Regions from separate parts of the Homo sapiens genome. Here all the other regions are linked to region 4. The links come from fine-mapping of genetic effects on gene expression. A gene starts in region 4. Each other region holds a variant in brackets. All regions are shown on one strand. Distances are between the middles of the regions.

The links.
Region 1: its variant is fine-mapped to the expression of BMPR1A in visceral fat (GTEx, PIP 0.96).
Region 2: its variant is fine-mapped to the expression of BMPR1A in lung (TOPMed, PIP 0.92).
Region 3: its variant is fine-mapped to the expression of BMPR1A in whole blood (TOPMed, PIP above 0.99). The same link has a PIP of 0.9 or more in nasal epithelium.

The regions. Positions count from the first base shown.
Region 1 is chr10:86,792,314-86,797,519 of GRCh38, reverse strand. All of the region lies in intron 1 of BMPR1A (bone morphogenetic protein receptor type 1A), which reads right to left. Among named protein-coding and RNA genes, the nearest start is that of BMPR1A, 38 kb to the right of the region's middle. RefSeq lists an enhancer at 3,777-4,503. The variant G/A (reference allele first, on the strand shown) is at 2,090.
Region 2 is chr10:86,915,754-86,920,959 of GRCh38, reverse strand. It overlaps BMPR1A (bone morphogenetic protein receptor type 1A), which reads right to left. Exons shown (of 13, transcript NM_004329.3): 9 at 3,634-3,826; 10 at 1,491-1,788. Among named protein-coding and RNA genes, the nearest start is that of MMRN2, 39 kb to the left of the region's middle. The variant T/C (reference allele first, on the strand shown) is at 2,293.
Region 3 is chr10:86,924,578-86,929,783 of GRCh38, reverse strand. It overlaps BMPR1A (bone morphogenetic protein receptor type 1A), which reads right to left. Exons shown (of 13, transcript NM_004329.3): 13 at 1,815-5,206. Among named protein-coding and RNA genes, the nearest start is that of MMRN2, 30 kb to the left of the region's middle. The variant C/T (reference allele first, on the strand shown) is at 1,985.
Region 4 is chr10:86,753,599-86,758,752 of GRCh38, reverse strand. It overlaps BMPR1A (bone morphogenetic protein receptor type 1A), which reads right to left and starts at 2,134. Exons shown (of 13, transcript NM_004329.3): 1 at 1,834-2,134. RefSeq lists a silencer at 1,652-2,621.

The sequences.
Region 1 (5,206 bases), 39 kb before region 4:
GTAGTTCATGCCTGTAATCCCAACACTCAGGGAGGCCGAAGTGGGCGAATCACGAGGCCAGGAGTTCCAAGACCAGCCCAACCAACACTGCGAAACCCCATCTCTACTAAAAATACAAAAAATTAGCTGGACATAGTGGTGGGCGCCTGTAATCCCAGCTACTCAGGAGGCTGAGGCAGGAGAATCACTTGAACCCAGGAGGTGGAGGTTGCAGTGAACCGAGATTGGGCCACTACACTCCAGCCCAGACAACAGAGCAAGACTCCGTCTCAAAAAAAAAAAAAAAAATTAGCCGGGCTTGGTGGCAGGCGCCTGTAATCCCAGCTGCTCTGGAGGCTGAGGCAGGAGAATTGCTTGAACTTGGGAGGCGGAGGCTGCAGTGAGCAGAGATCGCGCCACTGCACTCCAGCCTGGGCGACAGAGCAAGACTGTCTCAAAAAAAAAAAAAAAAGAAAAGAAAAGAAAAAGAAAGGAAAAATAAGAGTATAAACTGGGAAGAAAAATTGGAGCCACAATATAGAAAGCCAAGTATAAAATCAAGTTACTGGGCAAAAATCTGTGAATAAATTAGAACTAAAGCATGAGAGCTAAAGAGAATAAAACTTTTATGAACAGGACAAAACAGAACAACACCAACTCCCAATACCCAACCACAAACTTTTATTGGCTGTACCTTTTCTCTTTTGGAAAAAGCTCACTGGGACAATATTCTGCTAAGAAAATACAGTAACTCAGTCTCGGTGACATGGCAAAACCCTGTCTCTACAAAAAATACAAAAATTAGCTGGAGTGGTAGCGTGAGCTGGTCCCAGCTACTTGGGAGGCTGAGGTGGAAGCACTGCTAGAGCCTAGGAGGGGGAAGTTGCAGTGAACTGAGATCATGCCACTGTACTCCAGCCTGGGCAACAGAGAGAGATTCTGTCTCAAAAAACAAAAAAGAAGAAACAAGGAAAGAAAAGAAAATACAGCACCTACTCTCAAAATACTAAAAATAAATAAATAAATAAATAAATAAATAAATAAATAAATGTGCCTAAATTTATGTGATATAATTCTGATTACTAATTATAGTGACTTTCTTCAGAAGGGTAGTAAGTAAATTGATGAACATTATTAATACTTAAAATGACCTAAAAGTGAAGAAAAAAATAGTATTTCTTAATGGACAAATAATGTTTGACAGGGATTTACAAATAGCTTACAAATAATGCTTAAACTTCCTAACCCCTCAGAAAAGGGACCAGTCACATATTTATAAATACATATTTATGAAATACATTTAAACTTTAATAACCAAAATTGTTTAATTCCTTAAAGGCTTAAAAAAAAGCATATATTCTAACTAAAACCAACTGGGAAAAAAATACGACATAAAACAGTCAAATTAATATTCAGAATATGGCACTGGGATTTTATGACGTTTTTATGTGAAAATTCTTTTCAAACTCTTCATTTATCTAAGAGTAGCAAGGAAACAGAACAAAAGAAATATTGTAACTGCTTTGGGGACTTTTTACCACTACCTTTCTGAAACACACAATCTAATTCATGGCCATTTTGTGCCAAGAAAGTTATTTTTTTCCCCTCAAAATATAATTTAAAATACTCTTTAAATTTAACTCAATATCAATTTGAGATAAATTGATGTTTAACTGCATTATTAAACTATAACCTTTAAGCTCTCAAAGAAAATATTTTTAAATACCTCTGAATATACAAAGAAATAACTATTTGGATTACTTGAAATGCTAAATTATAAAAAAGTAAAGAAAGCCTTAAAAAAAATAAGTAGCAACTTTTAAGAGTATTTAAGTTAAAATGGTACTCTTCGGGGCCCTGTTAGGAAAACTGCCTAATTCCCTCCCTCCCTACTATGGGGAAGGGTTGAAGACATAGTGGCAAATGCATACTCTAGCCTCACTATTGCTTCTCTGAACGTGTGCAGTGGTAGGCTCAGGAACAAAGAATGTGTAACCTGATCTCTTTTCCTTCTCTCCTTCACAGCAACTTTTAGAAAGTAATTTAACCTCCCAAAATGGCATCTTTGTGCTGCTTAGGGGAAAAAGATCTATTCACTGTTACAGCGTTA[G/A]GAAAAAAAAAAAACAAATCACTTTTTAAATATGGTTTTTGCTTAACATAGTGATATTTTTGTCAAACACTGAGTACTTAGACAAGCCAATTATAAATGAATCACTATCTGAGTAAAATGTCTACTAACCAAGATTTTAAATGTAGCTCAGGATTTAAGAAAAATCAGTCTTACTAATGCAAGGTAGACTTAGTATTTATTTTGCTTCTACAACACATATAGTATAGCTCCAAATAAGTCTACAGAAAAAAAAAAATAAAGATTAAAAATTATCTAGATAGGCCAGGAGTGGTGGCTCACCCCTATAATCCCAGCACTTTGGGAGGCAGAAGCAGGCAGATCACCTGAGGTCGGGAGTTCAAGACCAGCCTGACCAACATGGAGAAACCCCATCTCTACTAAAAATACAAAATTAGCTAGTTGTGGTGGTGCATGCCTGTAATCCCAGCTACTCGGGAGGCTGAGGCAGGAGAACTGCTTGAACCAAGGAGGTGGAGTGTGCGGTGAGTCAAGATGGCACCATTGCACTCCATCCTGGGAAACAAGAGCGAAACTCTCTATCTAAAAAAAAAAAACTATATCTATATCTATATATCTATATCTATAGATATAGATATAGATAAATTTGAATTTTAAATCCTAGTGACTATACGAATCACAGAAGTCATTACTTTTAATTCTCATATTATCTTTTCATTTACCATAATTTAATAAAGGAAATATGTGAATCTGAAAATCTGGAAAGGAATAGAAACCTAAAAATAGTTGCTAGGCAGGTATCAAAGAATGTACTGAACGTTCTCACCTTTGACAAAAATCTTAAAAGCCATTCTAAAATTAATACCAACAAAATGTTATATACTTTTTATACATTTCAAAAGGCACTCTAACTTGATGACTTAATTTGATCTTCACAACAACCTTGTGAGTTAGGTGATCACATATTTGCTTATTTGAGACAGACACAAAAAGATTGGTAGAAATCTCTTGCCTCCCATCTAGAACCCTAAACTATTACTTTATTTCAGTACATACAGACAAGCATTACTATCTTGATTTCACCAAAGAAGAAACAAGTACAGAGAAGAAACTTGCCTAACGTCACAGTGCTGCTACACAGCAGAACAAGATTCAGGCCAGGACCAATCCAAGCCTCACCTCTAACCACAACTGTCATAAAAAAAAAATAGATAAAATTAACAGTTCAAAATTATGTAGCTGACTAAAAACCAACTGTGGTAGCAGGATAATGGCCCCTGCAGACATTCACATCCTAATCCCTGTAACCTATGAATATGTTATTTAAATGGCAAAAGGGACTTTGCAGATGTGTGACTAAGGGTCCAAAACCTGAGATGGGGCGATTATCCTGGATGAGCTTGTTGGGACCAATCTACTCACATGGTCCTTAAAAGCAGAGAACTTCTCCCAAGTACGGTGGGAAAGAGATGACAGGAGGTCAGAGCCATGTCACCTTGCTGACTGTGAAGGTGAACAGGAAGGGGAGCCTGATCCAGGAATGCAGCCAGCCTCTAGAGGCTGTAAGAGGCACAGAATCCATACTTCCTTAGAACTTCCCGAAAGGAACACGGCCCTGTAGACACCTGCATCTTAGCCTAGTGAGACCTGTGTTGGACTTCTGACCTGCAGAACCATAAGATAATAAATTTGTGCTCTATAAACCACTAAAAGTATGGTAATTTGTTACAGTAACAACAGAAAATATACCAACTACACTACATAATTGACACTGTCTTACACCATCTAAAAAAACTATCTGTCAGGCCTGGCGCAGTGGCTCACCTGTAATCCCAGCACTTTGGGAGGCCGAGGCAGGCAGATCACCTGAGACCAGCCTGATCAATATGATGAAACCCTGTCTCTACTAAAAATACAAAAATTAGCTAGGCGTGGTGGCATGCACCTGTAATCCCAGCTACTCGGGAGGCTGAGACAGGAGAATCGCTTGAATCCGGGAGGCAGAGGTTGCAGAGAGCCGAGATCACGCCATTGCACTCCAGCCTGGGCAACAACAGCGAAACTCCATCTCAAAAAAAAAAAAAAACTGTCAGTGAGCAAGCGTGTCATCAGAAATCCTGTCTCCAGTACAGATGAAATAAAAATACAGGTACCCTTCCCTATACAACTCAATGTGATCTTACTGCTTAATGATATTCTGGCCCAATGCTATACTTTTTAATTCTTCTTCCTCTTCTCCTAACAAGTCAACTGTAAATACAAAGCCCTGAAATTCCGAAACATAAATCCAGCTAACTTTCTTTTTTGCCTTGTCCACACCACCATGTGTGTGTGGGGTGGCGGGGGGTGGGGGGGGGTATAGATCAGGAGGATGAAAAAAGGACACATAGTAGCTAGAGAAGACTGCATTAAGGCAGAAGACTTACCAGAAAGAAACAAAGCAGTGGGCTATTAAACAGAATGTGAATCACTGAACAGAGTATTTGCCAAGAAGCTGCACTAGACATAATAATAAATTACTCCTTGATATAGGTGCTATTATTATCCCATTTATATATAGGGAAACAGAGCACAGAACAGCAATATAATTTAGCAAGGTCACTGTAATATCAACCTTAAATCTCTTCAACAGAATCCAAATACAATTGTGATCTGATACCCATCATGATCCATTTTAAAGTGAAATTTTCACAGCATATTTTCCTCCTTGAATTCATATTTCCAGTACATTTGCCCTGCATATAGTAATTGCTAATGCTTGGAAGTCTTATTAGTCACTCAGTCATACATGTCTGAAGTTCTGTTTGTTTGTTTGTTTTATAGAGACAGATTCTCCCTATGTTGCCCTGGTTGGTTTCAAACTCCTGGACTCAAGCAATCCTCCTGCCTTGGCCTCCCAAAGTGATGGGATTACAGGTTTGAGCCACTGCACCCAGCCTGTCTGATGTTTAAATGAAAAACATTTTAAATTTCCTGACCATAAAGAAGCTTCTAAGTGTTTAAAAAATTATTTTGAATTCAATTACCATTATAATTTTTAGCAGTATGCAATTCATTTAAATGGCAAACATTAAAGATCTGACAGTAGGCCAGGCATGCTGGCTCATGCCTGTAATCCCAGCACTCTGGGAAGCTGAG
Region 2 (5,206 bases), 160 kb before region 4:
TACTTGAACCTGGGAGGCGGAGACTGCAGTGAGCCGAGACCATGCCACTGCACTCCAGCCTGGGCAACAGAGTGAGAATCTCTCTCAAAAAAAAAAAAAAAAAGAAAAGAAAAGGAAAAAAAAAAGATAAAGTAGTAGATAATTATGTCTGAGAAGTGGTGAATATGAAAATACAAGAGGAATCGCTTGCTTTTACCACTCTCATATGATACACTAAGGCTTTGTGACATAGGATTACATTTTCTTCTTTATGGGTCCCATCAACAGAGTTCTGTTGTTAGCAATGTTTACATGATCATACTGACAATTAGTAATAATTACTCTAAAGCAGTGATCAATATAATGCGTTGTATTTTCCTATAGCATCTGATAAATATCTGAGCCAACAAATACTACACTGACTCAGAACACTGTAACAGATTTAAATGTCTCTTACAGTTGTTTTAAAGACTGGTACTTTTATATTACAGCCTAAAATGAATTCTGAAATGTAAAGCAGCCACTCCATTCTAGAATTACAAGATTAAAATGGTTTCAAAGGTTTCCTAAAAATTTGTAATTTCTAACACTTGCATTTGTTTTAAAATACTGACACTATCAAGTGGTGACAGAAAAATGACATCCTTATCTCTACTGCTTACGGGTGTGTAAACTGAGGCACACTGCTGAAAGAAATAATATGCAACATACCATAGTTTAATATGTATAAACTCACTGCCTCAGCAGGCCCTTCTCTAGGAATCCATCATGAAGAAATGCTTGTACAAGTGCACAAGGATCAAATATATAATATATGGTTAAAATACAACAATGTTCATTAAAAAACCTTTTCATAATCAACTGAAGACACCTTTAATGTTCATCAGTTGGGTCTTAAGAATAAACTACAGTACCTCCACATATGGAAAACTCTGCATCTGTTAAAAAGAATGAAGTAGATTTACATCAGCTGAAATGGAAGGATGGCTAAGACTATATGGCACACACCTGTAATCCCAGCACTTTGGGAGGATCAGCTGAGCCTAGGAGTTTGAGACCAGCCTAGGCAACACAGTGAGACCCCATCTCCGCAAAAAATAAAAACATTAGCTAGGTGTGGCAGTGCATGCCTGTAGTCCCAGCTACTCAGGAGGCTGAGGTGGGAGGATTGCTTGAGCCCATGAGGTCGAGGTTGCAGTGAGCTAAGATCACACTACTATATTCCAGCCTGGGCAACTGAGTGAGACACTGTCTTTAAAAAAAACAAAAAACAAAAAACAAAAAACAAACAAAAAAAAACACCAAAAAAATATATATATATCAAGAATTATGTATAGGAGAAGTAGGACACAATTTTTGTAAAAAGAACAAAATCCCCCCCAACTATACATTTATGTAACTAAAAACAAGCATATGCACATTTTTAGAATTCCATTATCTTGAATACAAATAGGGAAATATCTTTTGGAAATTAAAATAATTTCAAAACAGTGGGGCAAAGAACCACTCACCTGTTGAATTTAACAGCAAGGCCCAGGTCAGCAATGCAGCAACTCCCATTTTTCTTGATGAGGATGTTTTTGCTCTTTAGGTCTCGATGAGCAATTGCGGGCTTTCCTTGGGTGCCATAAATTTCTGTGTGCAGGTGGCACAGACCACAGGCAGCTGAATAAGCCAATTTAAGCAGGGCTCTGGTGTCCAGTGTAGCACATTTCAGGAAGTCATAGAGAGATCCATTTTCATGGTAATCAGTAATCAAATAGAGCTGAGTCCAGGAACCTGTACCTTTAATGTCTGCCGCTATGAAACCTGTCCAGTTGATGAGTTTAAAAGGTTAGTTATCATCAGAGATAGGCTAGGGAGAAGTAATGCTCATTCTGGATACTGAGAAAAACTTAGGTATCATGTGCAGATAGTGAAACTTTAATTCGCCTGACACCAAGTCGTGAATGTGTTACTAAAAATTATATTTCTACATTTACACATATATCTGTACTTCTACAATAAATTTATAATAATCTTAATAATCATGAAAGTGAATAGGATTAAGAAAAAGATCATATATGCTGGGTGTGGTGGCTCACACCTGTATCACTTTGGGAGGCCAAGGCAGGAGGATCACTTGAGGTCAGGAGCTCGAGACCAGCCTGGCCAACAGGGCGAAACCCCGTCTCTACTAAAAATACAAAAATTAGTTGGGCATGGTGGCAAGTGCCTGTGGTCCCGGCTACTCTGGAGGCTGAGGCAAGAGAATCACTTGAACCTGGCGGCAGAGGTTGCAGTGAGCCAAGATGGCGCCACTGCACTCCAGCC[T/C]GAGCGACAGAATGAGACTCCGTCTCAAAAAAAAAAAAAAGAAAAGAAAAGGAAAGAAAAGAAAAAGATGACATATTATACAAATAACCTGGAGAATATTATCAACCTACATGATTCTCTAGTAGAAAAGGCTCTCAATTTCAAAGCAAAAAGTGGACACTTTTATAAAATTAAGAATGTTCAACTAAGAGTTAGCTCCTAATTAAGCCAACTCCCATTTGCCCATCAGTGACTCATCACAGCTGCCTTTTCAGTCTGGCTCGTTGACTGCCAGGCCCACAGTCCTGCTCTTTTCCTTTCTCTCCTACCCTCTTCCCTCCAGAAAAAGGTCAGTGAGTGCTATGTACTGAGCTGAACAGTGCTCCCCGACAAAATTCATGTCTAAAATCCATGTCATCTATAAACGTGACCTTATTTGGAAAGAGGGTCTTTGCAGATGTAATCAAGTTAAGATGACTCATACAGGATTAGCGTGGGCCCGAATTCAATGGCTGGTGATGTTGTAAGGTGGAAATGTGGACCCAGGCACCCAGGGAGAAGGCCACCTGATGACAGAAATGGAGACTAGAGTGTTGTCTATACTAAGCCAAGGAACACCAAAAATTCCTGGCCACCAACCAGTAGCCAGAGGAGGCAAGGAAGGCTCCTCCTCTAGAGTATTCAGAGACACAACAGCTCTGCCAACACCTTGGTTTTAAACTTCTAGCCTCGAAAACTGAGTGAATACGTTTTGGAGGTTGAAGCCACCCAGTTTGTGGTAATTGATACAGCAGCCCTAGGAAACTAATACAATTGCCTGCTTGGCAACATGCTATGGGCTCTCCAAATTAAAGGGAGGAAAACAAGAGGTGAAGGGAAAAGAAAACTCAGGATAGCCAGATCGGCTTATGTACCTGACTGACCAGCTCACACCTAAATTACTTTGCTATTGTGTAAATGTGGAGATGGGGGGAAACACACATTAAACACAGAACGTACAATGAAACTGCATGTTGGGCTGTTGAGCTTATGAAAGGGAAAAGGCACATATGTTAATGTTACCCTAAATCACTGCTTAAGTTATCTATAAAAGACTGGGTTTTCATTACTATGGGAGTAAGTCCAATAAACTAGTATTATTTTCCATTTGAAACTCACTGCTGTTTCTTCAGCTGGTTAGTAAAGAAAGATCTTGGTTGGCATTCCGGACTATGTTTTATTCAAACCGTGTATTCTACTAGGTTTCCTTTAGCCAAATGTATATAGTTGAACTCACACATTTTCAAAGCACATATGGAGGCTTCCACCTGTACCTCACTAGCCTTGTCAAAAATGAAATTGACTGAATCAGTGTGTACCCACCAAGTATGTTTTCATGGCGCATTAGCACAGTTTGGTAGATTTCTGTTTCTCGAAACCAGCTGGCTTCTTCAGTGGTAAAGAATACTTTCACCGCCACTTTTTCGCCACGCCATTTGCCCATCCATACTTCTCCATATCGGCCTTTACCAACTTGCCGGACCATCTGAATCTGTTTGGCAATAGTTCGCTGAACCTTTATAGAAAAAAGTAAAAGGTTTGAGCTCTTGATGAAAGAAACCCATTAAGACTGGCAAAGGGGTAGTCCATCTCATCAAAAAGCATGGTGTACCCAACCAACTCCAGTTAAAAACTTATAATGTACTTTTTTTTTTTTGAGATGGAGTCTCGCTCTGTCACCCAGGATGGAGTGCAGTGGCGCGATCTCGGCTCACTGCAACCTTCACCTTTTAGATTCAAGTGATTCTCCTGCCTCAGCCTCCCAAGTAGCTGGGATTACAGACACCCGCCACCATGCCCAGCTAATTTTTTTGTATTTTTAGTAGAGATGGGGTTTAGCCACGTTGACCAGGCTGGTCTTGAACTCCTGACCTCAGGTGATCCACCCCACCCCCGGCCTCCCATAATGCTGGGATTACAGGCGTGAGCCACCATGCCCGGCCATAATGTACTTTAAAGTATGAAACAATGTACAATGTATTCTGAAATCATAAACAGGTTATTCAAGTGGCTGGCTGTTTGCAAAAATGGTCATAATAATTACCCTCCCAGTGCACACAGTCGTGGGTAGTCTTGGTCCACAGACTCAGGGCTTAGGCCACATGACTTGCTTTGGATAAAAGAACAACAGCGAACGTGATGCAAGCAAAGACCTGACAAATGTTTGTGGACTGGGGCTTGCCCCCTTCCTGCTGCTTTGGGAACCCTGTGACCAAAAAATAATGGCAGCATGAACTGTCGGCCAAGGGTGTGAACTACACCACCTAGCTCTAGCTAAGCAAGTCCAACAAATGAACTGCCCCACAGACTCACAGAATGAGAAATAATGTTTGTTGCTTCACATCACTAAGTTTTGGGGTGGTTTATTATGCAGCAAAGTCCAAATAACAGTTAAAGATCTTAAAAATCCCATCTATAAGACCCTGCCTGATCTGGCCTGGTCCCATTATTTGCTTTGACCACCCACCCACAAACCTCGTTTGACTTATCTCAACTTTTAGAATTCACTCAAGCTTATTCCTGTCGCTGGGTTTTTTTGAATATCCAGTTCCCTTTACTTAGAGTGCTATTTTCTCACTTAAACACCTTCATAGCACACAAAACCTCTCAGTTGCTGCGCTTAACACAATCATAACTTTATTCTTATTTACATATATATTTGCTTGAATTCCATCCCCTGCTCACAGAATATAAGTATTTATTTGGGACAATATCAGAAGTACTTTAATATTTGTTAAATAAAAGATGTACATGGATTGTTATCTTTCATTTTCAGAAGCATTAGTGATCATTCTAAATTAAAAAGAACATTATGCTCCAAGTTGGAAATGCTTCTAAAATGGACTAGATTTAGTGCAAAGCTAAAGTGACTTTATGTATCATTTATTATAGAATC
Region 3 (5,206 bases), 170 kb before region 4:
GAGACTAACAGATTGCTGGAAAGGAGAAATGAATACATTTATTCAGTGTTTCCACAGACAGAAGGAAAGCTGGCAAGCATTTGCAGTTCCCAGAAATCACTGAGTCTTCTTTACCAGGCTGCATCAGAGCGCCTGCGATTATTCTGAGAAACTTACAATGACACTGAACAGAGACTCCCGTGAGGAATCTGTAAGAGGCTATCTTCAGACACGCATTTCTTTTGAGGAACAATAATCAGTGCCACATCGCGTCTGTGATTTAACATGTTCAGTTCCCTAGGAAAAGGCAGCAGAAGGCACACTGCTGGGATGAATTCACATACACCTGAAAACAGCCCTGACTGGCGGTGGGACTCAGTGCAGGTGGGAAAATGACAAGAAAGTATTGCACAGGAGGAGGAAAGCTATCCAAGGCTTCACTTCCCATTGCAGCAGGAGCATCTTAAGGCCAGGTAAATGCATCCCATCGCTCTAAGCTCATGAACTGCTAGCAGGAATGAAAATGAAAAGCTTTGTGAGTAGCAATATGGCAATGTTTTCCAAGAACCTTAGTTTTTCCATCTTAAAGGATCTTTTAAAAGTTCATATCCACTAGTCTCATTTTCAGAAATGTAATATAAGAAAATAAAGATTTATGTATAAGGATGCTTAATATCTATTTTTCAAAACAATGAAAATAATCCAAATATTCAATAGGGGATTGAGCACAGAAATTACTCCATCTTCTTAGTCAAATATTGTGCAGTCATTAAAAAAAAAGTTCTCAATGGCTATTTAATGGCATACTAGGATCCTAATATTACAAAAAATGCAACATAAAAAAGAATAAGGCCGGGTGCAGTGGCTCACTCCTGTAATCCCAGCACTTTGGGAGGCTGAGGTAGGCAGATCACTTGAGGTCAGGAGTTCGAGACCAGCCTGGGCCAACATGGTGAAACCGCATCTCTACTAAAATACAAAAATTAGCCGGGCGTGGTGGTGCACACCTGTAATCCCGGCTACTTGGGAGGCTGAGGCAGGAGAATCACTTGAACCCAGGGGGCAGAGGTTGCACTGAGCCGAGATCGCGCTACTGCACTCCACCCTGAGTGACAGAGCAAGACTCTCTCAAAAAAAAAGATTGAAAAGAAACACTCAAATGTATATAGTGATAATGTCTGGCAATAGAATTTTGAGTGATTTTTATTTGCTTTATTATTTGCTGTTGTTTCCCAAATTTTCTGCCATGAGTACATTTCCATAATCAGAAAACAATGTTTTGGCCAGGCATGGTGGCTCATGCCTGTAAGCTCAGCACTTTGGGAGGCCAAGGCAAGTGGGCCACCTGAGGTCAGGAGTTCGAGACCAGCCTGGCCAACATGGTGAAACCCTGTCTCTATTAAAAATACAAAAAATTAGCCAGGCATGGTGGCAAACACCTGTAGTTCCAGCTATTCGGGAGGCTGAGGCAGGAGAATTGCTTGAACCCAGGAGGCAAAGGTTGCAGTGAGCTGAGATCGTGCCATTGCACTCCAGCCTGGGCAACAAGAGCAAAACTCCGTCTCAAAAAAAAAAAAAAAAAAAGGAAAAAGAAAACAATGTTTTGTCTTGTTTTTTAAAGGAAAAACCCCTGCACCGTGATAGGTTTAGAAGTTCTCTATCTCCACAGGGCAAGCGTGTACCTACCTGTGCTCCATACTGGGTTTCTGGTAGTTGAAGTGTACATCTCAGGAACATATGTATATACACTAACTTAATCATTACAAAAATCTCAACAGATGACTTCTGATGCACAATACCGTCTGAGTGTAGCATCACAAAACACATCACTAAAGTATACTAAAATAAGGTTATTTACTTCAAAATGATACATTGGACATAATCTGTATATAGAACAAAGCAAGTAATGGTAAACTCTTAAGGCACCTTTTAAACCAGATGCTGTACAAAATACATTTAGTGTGTTACACGTCAAAGACGAATCTATATTTTTGGTGTTTTACAA[C/T]TGCCTGATAAAACTGCTTGCTTTTACCCTTCTTTCAATGCCTATGTACAGTTTCCCCTAATGAAGCAATAATGATATTTCCATTTTATACAATATATACTACATTTTAGTTTTTAAATGGGCCAGGACAAAGGTCACTAAAAGGGCTTAAATAATTCCATAGAAAACAGAATACAGAGCATAAGCTAAAATTACAATAGTTAATCCTTTACAAGAGCCATATTCACATACTTTCCTTATGGGACCATCATTACACGTGGCTTCACAGGATGCTGTGCTGGATTTTGGTTCTTAGGAACACACCTCCTCCCTGCAGTTTCCACTGTGACTCTCACAGCAGCACACTAAGGCAAGAGACGAGCTGTGGCACTGCTATTTTAACACCTGACTCAAAGTCAGTAATAAATATGACCACTTTTAAACACTACAAGGGCTATCATAATCTTTTGTTAAAATAAAAATCATTTCTGCTGTTGAAATGATTTTAGATATTTAGAAACATTTCAAAACAACATCTATGAAGTATGTTTATGAAAGCTGCCCTGGAATAAATTATTCAATATCAAATTTGATCCTGGGCCAACCCAAAGATGCATGATTCTTTAAAAACTATAGTGCATTTTTGTTCTAAACAGAACAAAGCATCTGAAGAAAAGTACTGATTGTTAGAGTAAATCAAAATTTGGCACGTTCTAGGAAAACATAATTTTAAAAAACTATAGGTCACTTTCTAAGTTTAGAAACACTTCTGGACACTGGAAAGGCAATGTAAAAATACTGATTAAAATAACTTTTGTGAAAATATTTCCAAAGAAATCAGATGCAAGTTTTATACATCAGAAACTTGTTCAGTAAAAAGCACAGTAAAAGCTTAGAATAAACAAACTGAAGGAAACCCTAATGTGCCTTTAATCCTAGAGCTATTTGCCAGCATAAAGAGAATTCACAAGAACTCTCTTTGAGGGTTAACTTTTCCTGTTTATAGTCAGGTAGTTTGGGTTGTTTGCTTTTATATTTTAATTATTTAAAGAGCTATCTGAATGAAGCTACACACTTCAAAAACACTAAATTGCAAGTGGGACCAAATAATGGCTTCCAAGGTTTTACGAATTTACTAACTATGGTACTACATAATACTTCTTCTTGCTGGCCTATCATATTCTTTAAATATTTCACTTAGTCGATGAGCTTCAGATTTAAGAATAAGAGTGGAAAGGAGAGACAAGAACTAAGTTTAATGCAACATTTTTGTTTTTTGTTATTTATTTGTTTGTTTATTTGAGATGGAGTTTCGCTCTTTTGCCCAGGCTGGAGTGCAGTGACACGATCTCAGCTCACTGCAACCTCCACCTTCTGATTTTAAGCAATTCTCCTGCTTCAGCCTCCCGAGTAGCTGGGATTACAGGCACCCGCCACCACGCCTGGCTGAGTTTTTTATTTTTAGTAGAGATGGGGTTTCACCATGTTGGCCAGGCTGGTCTTGAACTCCTGACCTTGTGATCCACCCGCCTCAGCCTCCCAAAGTGTTGGGATTACAGGCGTGAGCCACCGCGCCCGGCCACATTTTTAGATTAAGATTCCAAAGACGGCAGCATTTGCTTTTTAAAGAACATGTTATACTAGAAAATGTTTTTACTGAGCAAGTTTCTAAGATTAACTCTTGATATCACTTTTACTAGACCAAGTTAATTTTAAAAAACCATAATAGTGGTCTCATATACTGGCTGTAATTTTTTGCTTCCACACACCATTTGAACATTTCCAATAAACTTTGCCTGTCTTTATATTTTTATTAAGATGACAAATGAACTTTGGGAGGCCGAGGCAGGTGGATCATGAGGTCAGGAGATTGAGACCATCCTGGCTAACAAGGTGAAACCCCGTCTCTACTAAAAATACAAAAAATTAGCCGGGCGCGGTGGCGGGCGCCTGTAGTCCCAGCTACTCGGGAGGCTGAGGCAGGAGAATGGCGTGAACCCGGGAAGCGGAGCTTGCAGTGAGCCGAGATTGCGCCACTGCAGTCCGCAGTCCAGCCTGGGCGACAGAGCGAGACTCCGTCTCAAAAAAAAAAAAAAAAAGATGACAAATGATTTTAAAGATTATGGTATCAAGTCAAAAGTAAACCAAGATTTAAGTAAATTGGGTGTTCTAAGTGCAATCATATCATACGGCAACGCAGATTAAAATATTTGTATTTCTCAGTATACATATGGTGAAAAATTCTGAAAAAACAAGTTATTGGGTATTATCCATATGCAAATTTACTTATCTTGATGAACACTTCAGACTTTAATTATGGCAGATGAAACTTATTAATCAAAATGGTTAAGGCAATTTTCAAATTTGTGAAATTTGATGTGCAGACAAATTTGTAAGTTTTAACCTTAAATGATAGTCAAATTTTGGTAATGGGTGGACATATGCTGATTTCCTCCCATTTAATTTAAACCTTTTTGATGATGATGTGATATAATCACATTTATTTTATGTTATAATCAAATAAAACTATCTCACTTGATGTACTCATGAATTGTTTGCTCAGAATAAATATTTAAAAAGCATTAAAGAAGTATAAGTTTATGTAAATCAGATTTCTTGAGATAACAAGGCATCTATAAAATATGAACCATTTTATTGAAGAACAGTTATACAGTGTAGCTACAGATACTGACTAGATACTAAATATTTCTGCCTGATTTTTCATTGTCTTCACAAGTTAGGGAATAGAAATCAAAAAACCAAAAATCTCAAATGATTTAGCTGTCCAGAACATATTTGACAGTTGATAAATTTATAACAGCTCTGACATATAAATTTCTAATTAGAGAATCCTTTCATTTGAAAAAATTGAGATGATATTACCCTAATGAAGTTTTTACCTGAAGTTAACAAAGTCCTGGATTTGATATATTACTTTGAATGCATTAATTCTGAAAATTTATATTTAGTTCTACTTTATAACATTTCTTCTCTTAAGGATGGGATATGAGGTACACATGAGCTGGTTTCTACAGTATGAATGTATGTACATATATAAAGTATGGTTGTAAAGGAGTGGGTGATTTGCAAATAAAGCACATTATACACAAAATATAAATAACTTCCCTTTTAAAAGTTACTGAGAATAAAGAATATAGAACATGGTTATAGGCACTTACATTGCTATCAAATGCAGGAATTCACTTCAATAAGAAGTGCTTTCTTTGTAAGCATGGTTCATGG
Region 4 (5,154 bases):
TGAGTGGCTAGCCACCAACCAGGCAAAGGCAGGAAAAGCAGACTACACTTGGCAATCTCTAGAGATGGATTGTGAATGACTAAATTTTAATTTCAATGTTGCGCTAGTTCGCAATTAACAACCATGTGTTACTTTTATTACGAACAAGCTTTTTAAAATGTTAATAAGATTTGAAAAGGAAAAGCAGCAACAAGACAGCTTGAAGGAGTAGCAGACTTAAGAAAAGGTTTTTGTAAACTGAAAAAATCTTAAGAACATTTGTACTTTAAAGAACCCAAATACGACAGAGAAAATAACTCACGCTCCACTAAGCAGGAAAATTAGAAGGAAAGGAAAAAAACCCCAAGGTGTTAACTAATAAGAAAGACAAAAAAAAAAAAAAAAATTCTCCCTCTTTGACGGAAGGTTAAGAAGCCAGTAACAGAAGGAATTTAATGAAGGAGCTCCTGCTAAGTGCCTCAACCTCTTCTGTAAAGGGTGGGGAGAAGTGAAGAAAGTAGAAAAAGTTTAAAGTGGGCTCCACGGAAAATGGAGGAAAAATTAAACAAGAACTGAGTCTGGTTCTACTAAAAACGCATTCTACATTTCAATCGGCCTTTCATACACTCACCCCATTCCTAGATCAGAGAATTGCCCATATTTTAGCTTCAAATTTAAAAATCTAAATAATTCTGGTTCACATTCTTTATTTCAACAACTGAAAACAATGAGACGCATTAAGTTACACTCTAATTCAAAGTTTAACTCCTCTCACAAGTAAATACAATAAAGTAGTTGTTTTCAACTCCAGCAACAAAATAGCGATAATTTCAAGTAAGAGTAACTGAAAAATGTTCCTAAACGTAAAAGTGTTTGCAAACAGTTTTGGTTTTTTTTCTTCCTAATTCGTTTGCCAGAATACGATGTTCCTGGGTTCAAATCCCAGCTCCCTTAGACAAGTTAGTTAACCTCTTTGCGACTCGGTTTCTTCCCCTAAAACAATGAGGAATACAATAAACCAGAATCGTTGTAAGGATTAAATGACGTAACACAGGTGCCAAGTTCATACTATGTACTCTGAACAGTTTGTTAACCGCTTAAAAGAGAAAACCTGCAGGAGTTTGACCAAATTAAAACATCTGAGAGCATGAAAGAGTACCACGCTCAAACGCCAGACCCTAACACACAGCATATTATTTTTCTTCCCTGACGCAAGCTCATTTTTTTTTCCTTGCCAAATCTTTCCACTAGGAGTCTGGAAAGAGAAAAAAGGGTCCAGGCAATCCAGCAGAAAGTTTTCCAAAACTGAAGTACGGAATCACCAGGCCACGGAGCGGAGGCCGCGCAGGACAACAGGTGAAGCAGCTCCGGGAGCTCGGGGGCCAGGGCCCCTTCCCGCGGGGACTCGGGGGCGGGCCGGCTGCTCCTCTCACTCGACCCCCGCCCGAAACTCATTTTGTTCTCCCCTGTTCCTCCCCACAGCGTCCGGAGCCAAATCACAAATATCAGCCTCGCCGCTCCGGGGCGGGGAGGTGAGCGCCTTTCCCATTTAAGGATTCCAGAAGCGTCCCCGGAGCGACTTTCGCCCACTCCGCATCCCCAAACTCGGCCTGCAACCCGCGAGTGGGAGACAAAAGAGGGGCCGGCGGGGGACGCGGCGCGGGGTGCCGTGGGTCTCTGGCTGGGCGGTCCCGGCCCAGCGCGCGCCGAGGCCTGCGGAGCTGCCGGGGCCGGGCCGGGCAGCCCCTGGCTCCGGCCACCGCGCGCCCAGCTGCCTCTGCAGCCTCGCCCGAGCCCCTCTGGCCTCCCCGCTGCGGCCAGCCCCTCCGGTCCGCACGCGCACTCCCAACTCACCCGGACCCCAGGGAACGCATCCTCCAGCCCTCGGCGCGGAGCGGGTGGGCGCGGCGAGCCGCCGGGGCGAAGTGGGGCCCGAATCGGCCTTCGCCCTTGGCGTGCAGCGGCCCCGACCCGGTCGCCCCTCGATCGGGCCGTGCGATCTTCGCCGCGCGCGGACGGACGCGCCGAGCCTAAGCCTTCCTGCCCGCCCTTGGCCCTCCTCCCTCCTCGCTCCTGCCTCCTCCCTTCTCCTTCGCCAAGCCCGGCAGGCGGATTCCAATCTCTGCAGCGGCCGCCGCCACCGCCGCCGACTCTTGCCAGGAGGGGAGGGGGCGGCGCGGGTGCGGGGGCCTGGGGGAGGGGCGGGCGTCCGCGGGCCTTGCACGGCGCGCGCGCACTGGGAAGGCCCCCGCCCGCGCCGCGCGCACCCGACCACGGGCGCCTGCCCCGCCCCGCCCCGGACACGAAAAGAGCCGAGCGCACGGCGGAAGCGCCCGAAGAGTTCGCGGAGCCCGGCGCCCAGTTGCCGGGGAGGAGGGCCAGCCGCCGGCAAGGGGGCGCCGAGCTGCTGGTGCGGGCGGGAGTCGGGGCTGCTCCTCCGCGCGGGCCCGCCGGCCCCTCCCCACAAGCCAGCCCCACAGCTGCCGCCCGGGTAGCTTCCCGCAGACGCCGTAGGTAGCACGCGATGGAACGCGGCGGAGGGGAGCGTGGACACGGCTGCCGGGCGCTGCGGCCATCGGCGCCCTGGACGCCCGCTCCGGCCTTCGGGGCCGGATATCCCCACTCTCGCGGGCTCTTTCGCGTGGACCCCTCCTCCGGCCGACACTCACACTGCGGTGAACGCCAGTCAGCTGGCGTGAAATAAGGTCGCTGGGAAGGCACCAAGTCACCAAGGTGGGGGATGGCCAGGTCGTGGTAGTTGCGACAAAGAAAAATATAAGTCACATTGCATTTGTTTCTCGCCCACCCACCGCTCCCGGCGTCTCTTCCCGGGCTCCTTGCCAGCGTGCCGAGGCGCAGGCAGGGTGATGGAGGCTCCCCGGCCGGGAGGATCTGCCGGGGAGAGCGGCTTCCCTCATCGATTCGGGAGCGCCAGGCCCGGCGCGCCCGGGCTCCTGTGACCTGCGAGCCCGCGAATTCCAGCGGCATAAGATAAGGAGCGGCGAGGGCCCAACAGGACTGAGGTCAGCCAGCTATAAATACGCCTCCAGCTCCACCGCGGGCTCACGCTGGTGACCTCGTGTACCCTCCGGAGGCTCATTCCGTCCATTTGGAAAATGCAAATAATTGTCACCACCTCTTTTCTTCCATTTCCCCTCATTCATGGTGGAAAATGCTTTTAAAAGTATTCGATGACCCGTATGTGAGGAAAGAGGAGATAGGCCCCTTTTTCACCAAATGTGACTTTAACCTCCTTAGTAATCCAAGAAATGTATCAAGTTTAAGTCACTTAACAAAAGATGTTCTTTTAAAGGTGCATTTTAAAAAATCACTTTTAAAACTGGGTAAACTGGGTAAAAAGAAAGGGGGAAGGAAAACAATGTGCCAGGCATTTGTATTGACACACATTCTTGCCTGAAGAGGTGTTTAGATTCCAGGGTATTCCCTTATATTCTGGTATAAATGTTTGAATTCCCGTGTATTTTGTTTCAATTTTTTGGTTTATCTTTTATTCTGTCTCCCTTTTCTTCTTTTACCCGCCTTTGCCCTTAATGCTGCAGATAGCCTCTGTCATTCTGAATTATTTTTCAATTCTGTTTTCTTCCCTAATCTTTTTTTCTGGGCTCTTCAGCTGTCTCAGGTTTGACAGTCATGGGTTGTAGTATCTTGCTATGCAGGAAGAAGAGGATACGTGAGATTACTTGCATCAACTAAAATTGGTCACTTTTCTTTCTCAAGTTTCCTTCATAATACCCAGTTTTAGTTTTTTTGTTTTTTGGGGTTTTTTTGTTCTTTTTTTTTTGAGACGGAGTCTCGCTCTGTCGCCCAGGCTGAAGTGCAGTGGCGCCATCTCGGCTCACTGCAAGCTCCGCCTCCTGGGTTCACGCCATTCTCCTGCCTCAGCCTCCTGAGCAGCTGGGACTACAGGCGCCCGCCACCACGCCCGGCTAACTTTTTGTATTTTTAGTACAGACGGGGTGTCACCGTGTTAATAGGTGTTCTCGATCTCCTGACCTCGTGATCCTCCCGCCTCGGCCTCCCAAAGTGCTGGGATTACAAGCGTGAGCCACTGCGCCCAGCCCCAGCTTTAGTTCTAAAGGAAAAGATGGGCCTTTTGCTTAAGGAGATTCACATTGATTGGTCAAAGCTCTCATTGACGTATGCTGAGCAATGTGTCGGCAGAGAAAACCATGGCAAGCGTGTTATTATGCTCTTTATAGTCTAGTTGGATTTTTAGACATATGAATTGGTCTATAAAATAGACAACAATCTCAGGTGGGAACCTTAGTACATCAAGTTTCTGAAATGTACAAATGAGTATTCCCTGGCTTGTGTTATCTGCCACTGTAGAAATGAGAGCAAAATTGAAGCATCAAATTTTAAGTCGTGATATGTTTGCTTCTCTGCAAAAGACTCTCCTTTTCAAATCTTCAGGAATTTTTCGCTCTCCTTTGATAAGGCCCAGCTAGTACCCAGGCTTCAATCCTCAGCGCCCTGGCTACCAGCAGCTAGTGGGGCATGCTGTTCTCCCTGGCTACTGGCATGTTTATGCATGCCAGCCCGTTTCTCCGGTCTGTCTGCCCAGGGAGACATCTGGACACGTGTGTTCTGGCCCCCAAACTCAAAAGCAACATCTCGGGATCCACAGTTAACATTCCGTAATGTGTTGGTATTCCTTTAAGTGGGTTACTAGAATAGGCTGGAAATGGTCTTTTCTTCTGTCCAGGTAGGTCACAAGAGAGGTAGTTGTTACATGCCCAAAGCAGCATTCATTAATTACATCGTGCATTTAGTTATTTGTTTGTGGTCTGAGCCCCTCTGCTCCACTAGAATATAAACTCCATGAGCAAAAGACTTTGTCAGTCTCTCTTTTTTTAGAGACAGGTTCTCACTTTGTCACCCAGGCTGGAGTGCAGCGGCATAGTCATAGTTCACTGTAACCTGGAACTCCTGGGCTCACGTGATCCTCCCCCCTCAGCCGCCCAAGTAGCTGGGACTACAGGCCAGCTTGACTTTGTCAATCTATTCTCAACTCTCTCCTCAGAGCCTAGTGCCTGGCAAGTGAATATTTGTTAAATGAGAGAAGAGAAATAAGCATACATATCCTCTAGGCATTTCTAAACCTTGTCACCAAGACCCTTTTAGTGTTAGAGGGTGGCATGGCTATCTTGGAAA